Linked DNA regions of Homo sapiens. The protein of the gene in region 2 purifies or fractionates together with the protein of the main gene of each other region. This does not show direct contact. Each region holds a gene or a part of one and is shown on either strand. Other genes may lie near its edges.

Region 1 (3,653 bases), on a different chromosome or scaffold from region 2:
AAAAAGTTTGAATGTGCAGCTAACTCAGGCTTCATTCACCTTTCTCTTTATTTACTCAGAGTGGAAAAAGAAAGCCTGTCTTTTCAGAATCTGAACAATGTCTCATTTAGAATGATGAGTTCATCCAAGGAACAAAAATTGGCTTCTGTACCTTTAGAAAAAGGAACTGCTGTTAAATGTTGGGCTGTCATTTCAGTAGTTTGATGAATCCAGTTGTTTTAAGTGACCTCTACCGGTTCACTTACATGAATTCCAAAAACTTAATAGCAGATACACGCTGTGAATGATTTGCCCTTATTTCAGAACTTTGTTAAGATTGCGTTTTGGGGATGACTAGTATTAATTAACCAGTTTTTTTAAATCAGAAGTAAAGAGTAGAACTTGATACCAGTGTTGAAATTATTTGCAGGAAAATAAGACACAGGTATTTTGACCTGATATGAACTTAGTTATGAAGCAAATTTTTTTCCCCATATGATGCCATGAAAAGTTATAGTATTTAATTTATGATAATAATTTTAAGCTTTAGTATATCTGAGAACTACATGTGACTACTCCTTAAAAATCAATTTAAAATGTGATACAAGTGATTAGAAAATATTCCCTCCAGGTCTTTACTAGATAGTCATAAAAAGATTTGACTTATATATTACAAAGGAGAATTTTCATTTGTTCTTTGTGAATTTCTTCTCCTTTTCCTTTGAATCGTGAAGAAATGTTTGGAGACTCACAGGAAGAAAGTGGCAGTAGAGCTGCTTTACAACTGATACATTTTTTGAAGTAGAGATGGTTGTTTTACTGGCTTCTCATTTTTCACTGTCTCTCTCATTTTTTATTTAGAATTTTCTCCCAAACTGGTTGGCTTGACTGGCACGAGAGAAGAGGTCGATCAAGTGGCCAGAGCATACAGAGTGTATTACAGCCCTGGCCCCAAGGACGAAGATGAAGACTACATAGTGAGTAAATGTTCCAGTTTTAACCCATGGACCAGCTCCCAGATCCCAAATAGTCATAAGGCTTTCAATGACTGACTAGCTTCTGAGAAGAGAGAATACCTAAGATTATTGCAAAGTCCTTAGGAATTTTTTTTTTTTTTTTTTTGAGATGGAGTCTCATTCTGTCATCCAGGCTGGAGTGCAGTGGCACAATCTTCGCTCACTGCAACCTCCGCCTCCCAGATTCAAGCAATTCTCCTATGTCAGCCTCCCGAGTAGCTGGGATTACAGGTGCGCGCCACCACACCTGGCTACTTTTTTATATTTTTTGGTAGAGACGGGGTTTCACCACGTTGGCCAGGCTGGTCTCGAACTCCTGACCTTACCCGCCTCAGCCTCCCAAAGTACTGGGATTACAGACGTGAGCCACCGCATCCAGCCTCCTTAGGAATTTTGAATATTTGAAAGGATAATAGAAGCATGTTTTTTACTTTTTATTTATTTTCGAGACGGAGTCTCACTCCGTCAGCCAGGCTGGAGTGCAGTGGTGCGATCTTGGCTCACTTCGACCTCCGCCTCCCGGATTCAAGCAATTCTCCTCCCTCAGCCTCTCGCGTAGCTGGGATTACAGGCATGTGCTCCCACGCCTGGCTAGTTTTTGTATTTTTAGTAGAGAAGGAGTTTTGCCATGTTGGCCAGGCGAGGCCAGGGGGTCTCGAATTCCTGACCTCAGGTGGTCTGCCCTGCCCACCTCAGCCTCCCAAAGTGCTGGGATTACAGGCCTGAGCCACTGCGCCCAGCCAGAAGCAGTTTTTTAAAAGATGATTGTTTGATTTATATTCACTGTTCTCATAATTCAATTGCCTGTTTTTCTCTTATAGTGGCATATAGGATTTTAGGGCAGTTTAAAACCAGATACTTGGGTGCCATGTTGGAAATAAAGAGAAGCCATCATTTGGAACAACACTTATTTTAAAAAGATTGTGTTGGTTCTCACTGTGTCCCCAGTAGAGGTATCAGAAATTGCTCTTCTGGAGAACCAGTTTTAGGCCATGGAGAACTGCATTTTTAGGTTGAATGAGAATTCTGAAAAGCAAAAGATGAAAGGTTTATTTGCCCATTGACTATATGCCTTGGACAGTTAGGCGTTAAATATGTGCTTTTTAATGATAAGGAACAGAAATTCTGTTGTACTTGTGTAGCTCTTAAATTAACTATCTTCATATTCATCAGCACTGCCCCAGAAGCCTTAAGGTCATGCCCAAGTTACTGTGTTTCTTTTCTTGTCAGTGGTTTCACAGTGAAGCACCAAAAGGCATTAGCACCACCACTATCCACCAATTTTCCTCTCAATTTGGACATTTTTCTCCTATCATATGAAGAGTCGGCGTTGTATTTTAGCATTATTTCAGTATTTTTCTTAGTTGTCATACTCTGTTTTTTCTATAATATTGTTTGGGCAGAGTAATCCTAAGAGCCTTTCTAGCTGTGAAGCTGTCTTTGTAGAAAGAAAGATGGCCAAGACCCTGAGTCACTGATCCAGCAGCTCCCCATGGCCCATCCCAAGAGTTGAGATGCAGAGGGGATGGGATGTCTCACTGCAGTGCTTTGTCTCAACAGCCAACTATGATTTCTTTGTCCCTTTGAACCTGGAACGTGTGTGCCCCTGGAGCCTACAGCCTGAATTAAAAGCAAGGTTCTGGCCTGTTTGCCTTAATTAAGCCTACACAGTAATCCTGTCTTCCAGATGTGGTGCCTCGTAGAATTAGGGAAACTTGGATTCCTTGGAGTAAAAGATGAGAAAAATGAGCACTTTTCTTTAAGCCTTAATTGTAAGGAAAGTAGAGGGACCCTCCTCTGTTTTCCTCTTGCTGCTTCTCTAGCAGAATGAGAGAAGAGCAGAGAGCCACAGTGGCCAAAAGAGGAAACCATAGGAAAAGGACTTTCCGGACTTCTGTCTTTATAGAGAGTTGTATTAACTGGTTTTGAGTTTATCCGATGATGACAGCAGGAATAGATGAGCTCATCAGTCTGATTTCCAGCATTAAATGAGTTATATTAAATTGTTTAAATGTATACAGTCCTAAACTAGGTAACACTCCATAGTCTTGATGCTTAGAACTCATAACTCAGAGTCAGAAAGTCAAATCAGAAAGCAGTTGTACAAATAAACCCAAACAGCCTGCAAAACTTAAATTGAAAACATTCAGTTACATTGACAAGAGATTTTGCTGAAACCAAAGTGCTGCTCAGGGCAAGAAGGGAGGGGGTTTTGGTCAGACTGCTATCACATACCCAACTCTACTCAACTGCCCCTCTGCATTTTCTATTTAAAATACTTTGAAACCTTTAATCGTGTAGCCTGCCTTGCCTGGTTAGTGTTGATTTGGCAAGAATGTATCATATTCATGTCTGCCTGTAACAGCAGTGGGCAGCTAGGTGCCAGTGAGATCATGGAGCAAACACAAGCCTGGGCACTGAAATTTATACTCACAACACAGATAATCCAGAATATGGATATTAATGTTTTTAATTACAAATGAAAACAAAAATATGTAAGTCTTATGGAAACTTCTTGGACCTTGTAGAATGTATCTTTGGCCCCATTTTGAGAAATACTGGCCTACTGCCATAAGAATTTGACTTTTGATGAGATTCGATGAGGAATTCATGCTGTACATTTGCTAAATCATCCAATAGGGGGAGACATTCTTCAGC
Region 2 (3,653 bases):
TTGATCCTTAGTTGCAAGCTCCTAGAAGGCAGGTGACGGCACACTTCTTCTCCAGTCTGGTATGGTACTTTGTACTCACAAAGCACTTAGTAAGTATTTTTTGGGATAGAATTCCAAAAGGACCGTTTCTCTAAGTTATATGACTACCATTCTTATGGACTAAAAGGTGCTCTTCAAGAGAAACGTTAATTGCAGTACTCACTGGAATTCGATTTCGGGACCTAAAAGTTGCAACTCTCCGGAGGTCATCATCTGAGGCACGATACGGAACCACCAAAAGAGCAGGGTAAGTGTCACAGAGCTCATAGCACTTATTAATAAAAGTTATTCTCCAATGGTGATTGGGCAAGCCCTGTGAGGAAAAAAAGAAATTCAAGTCAGTATTGCTTGACCTCATCTCTGGATTTGGCCTTGGGCCTCTTTTCTTCCTTCTAGCAATATGTGCACATGCCTCTTTGACCACAGGGTGATGACGGTCTACCTATTTATAATAAGGGTGCCAAATCAATAATCCAGACAACGTAAGAACACAAGACAAAACACTGGTGGTTTTTACAGTTCTAAACTATACTTTGTAAATACAGATTCTCTTGAATTCAAAGGAATTCGTCTTCCTTTATTTTGTGTCCACATATTCTTTACTACCTGTACCACACAGATAAACCCAAGTTCATCCCCCGCCCATGCACCCCTCCCATCCCCTAAAAAAATACCCTGCTTCATCTTAATCTGGCTCTAACTGAGGGTAGAAAAGAGATCAGGCAACTTCCTCTCCCTGCTCAAAATAGAGTGAATGCTTCAGTCTGCTCCAAAGTGGAAAGAGGCTGAGCTCATGAAGAAAATCATGAGGGGAAGTAAAGGAAGATCCCTCTGGGGAGGCTCATTTCGCCACCTCCGATGAGTTTTTTTTCAATCAAGTTGTTCGGAATCGATGATTGCCCTATAGTTTGTGTGAGAAATACAGTCATTTGCATTTTAAGCAGACTGCTAATGTGACAGGGAGACACAGAAGACACCTCCCATCCTATCATCTCCCCCACAAAATTGTATTTAGTATGGAAAAGATCCAGAGGTGGTGGAATATTCTCTCCCCATTCTCACAAATGCACAGATACACACACAAAAGTGAGCTATGTGGGTGTTTGCTTTGGGGACAGACATTGTACCTTTTCTTTAGGTCTGGCCCTAGAGACCACGGACCAAACAGATGTTGAGTCTGATGCTGAGTCCAATTAGACAGTTATAAGTCCCATCAGAAAGTTATAAGAAAAAAAGATTGAATATAATGGCAGTCTAGAACAAAATACCTTCAACAGTTCATATATGCATGCAATCTTAAAAACAGGAACTGTTTTGTTTCAAGCTAGAAGCTTTGAACTAAAAAAAAGTCTTAATGTTATCAGTAATACTTCAAAAAGAAGGTAAAAATATTTTAATACATCATTTACAGAGGTCTCCAAAACATGCAAAATGTTTTCATGGTCCTTCTTCCGCCTCAGTAGCTAGTCCAGAACTGAGGCCATTAAAATGGGAGTAGTGCAAAGCCTTAGAAAACTCAACAGTCTAAACGTGACTTATGGAAGCAACAGGATATACTATGTCACATATGTTCTAAAGCTAAACTCCTGCACCCAAATTCCAGAGCGTCAAATCTGTTCATGAATATGCAAACCGTTGATTAAGACTAAAAAAGGAAACCAATCCAGGTTTTTCATGGTGAAGGTGGTGACTAGATGGTTCTTCTCAAGTCTAGGGTTCTACGATTTTACTTTATATTCACTACCTTTTCATATAAAGCAAATGGGTTTGATCTGATTCTCAAATCTCATTCAACAAAACTTTTCAATTATCTTAAGAGCTTTGTAGAACAAGAATTGTGAATAATCCCATCACACAACTCCTAGCTGCCTACAGATTTGGTTATACCAGAGGTCAAACTGTGGCTCTTGTTACATATTATGCACAGAATTCCCTTAACAAAAATACTGCAAGAGACTTTTGTTCCTGAACAGCAATATGAGACCAAGCCTCTTGCCTTTATTATAGCAAATAAACATGCATGTAGGTGACATTCATATAAGAGAACAGTAAAGACAATTATAATGTACACTTATCAAAGCTTCCTTGAAAAAGACATCACTACAGGAAAACAGTTCTAATTCATTTGAATCTGCAAACTGAAATGAATATAATTTAAATCTAACTGCAGGTAATAGTTAAGCTCCCAAACATGCATATACATAGCAATATCAAGTCCTAAAGTGTAACTTCTAAAATGTTTGACTTTTCTAAATCCTAAGTATTTAATTCATTTCATAAACAACACAGAATTGATGCTCTTCATATAGGGAAGGAAATAGGATTTAGTGACCCAGTCTTCGATGCAGCTTGCATATGGCAATGGAATGAGCTTATAAGTTATACAGTAATAGATAGAATGAGATATATTGTACAAAATGTGGATAATATCACCACCATTGAAAAGATATTTAGCAAGGATGTCGCTGATTTTCAGAAAGCATGGCTGATGACATACTGTCATAATGCATGTTTCAGGTTCATCACATACCAGACAATAGCATCTAACATCTTACCTGCCTCCTGTATTCTTCCACTGGATTGTAAACTGTCCATCCATCCACGTTAAACTTTTCTTCATTTAAAAATGCAAATAATGGCTAGAAAAGGCAAAAAATAAATAAAGTTCAGCGTGAAGGAACAGTCTACTATTATAGTACATCTTTTGATTTCTCGCAAAATAAATTTCACCAGATTTGCCGACCATGAAATTACAACCCACACCAAGGCTTATAACAACAACAACAAAAAAAAACAGTGGAAAACTCAGATCAGACTTACGCTAACTTCTATCTTGAGTAATAGAAGCCTCAATTTTCTATGGCTATAAATCTCTCAATTGTTCTTTTAATGATGTTCCACAAAAAAATCAGATTACCAGACCAAAAAGTGCCTATCAATTTTAAACAGTATTAGCAATTGATCAGGTACAAGCCACTAAAAAGAAAGAAGGAAAGGAAGAAAAATAAAATTCAGGAATTATTGTTAAACGGTGCAACTGTCTCAAAAGGGAACAATGACATGTTTATTTTTTAAAAAGATAGGATATTAAGAAAACTCTGAGCTAACTGTTCTCTGTGAATTCTGAATCAATGCCCTGGTTTCTGTGAAATGGCAGGACTCAGACCTCTCACCTCTTCTCTATATATACTCACCCTCAACGTGCTGTTGATACATTTGATAGCTTCAAATACCATCCATACTCTAGTGACTAGTAAGGACCTATCATTCTCCAGCATCCCCTCTGAATTCCAGACTTGGCTATCCAAGTGTCCACTCTACCACCCCACCAGACTGCCTAAGAGGCATCTGAAGAACTCTCAAGTTAACACAACCAAAGCCAAACACTCTTGGCTCCCCCTACCCAGTCCTGCTCTTCCCACAGTCTCCCCATTTCAGTACATGACTTCCAGCTGATTGAGCTGAAAACCTTGGATTCATCTTTGTCACCACGTGGCTACCACCCAGGTCCAAGCCACCATCATCTCTTACTTGGTTGATTATAAAAACCTAACTGCTCCCCTGCTTTCATCTTTGTACTTCTCAAGTCAGAGTGACAGTGTCATAGGTCAGAT

The links. Proteins that work in one complex are often made in the same cells at the same time.
Region 1: the proteins of MTM1 (region 2) and SCO1 purify together in Homo sapiens (affinity purification with mass spectrometry, with the first as the bait; one large-scale study listed by BioGRID). This does not show direct contact.

What each region holds. Positions count from the first base shown.
Region 1 is NC_000017.11:10,684,030-10,687,682, reverse strand, and holds part of SCO1 (protein SCO1 homolog, mitochondrial), read left to right. Parts: intron 1-840; coding exon 841-956; intron 957-3,653. UniProt on the Homo sapiens protein: Copper metallochaperone essential for the maturation of cytochrome c oxidase subunit II (MT-CO2/COX2). Not required for the synthesis of MT-CO2/COX2 but plays a crucial role in stabilizing MT-CO2/COX2 during its subsequent maturation.
Region 2 is NC_000023.11:150,637,968-150,641,620, reverse strand, and holds part of MTM1 (myotubularin), read right to left. Parts: exon of another isoform or gene 2,860-3,653; intron 2,679-2,859; coding exon 2,595-2,678; intron 353-2,594; coding exon 203-352; intron 1-202. UniProt on the Homo sapiens protein: Lipid phosphatase which dephosphorylates phosphatidylinositol 3-monophosphate (PI3P) and phosphatidylinositol 3,5-bisphosphate (PI(3,5)P2). Has also been shown to dephosphorylate phosphotyrosine- and phosphoserine-containing peptides.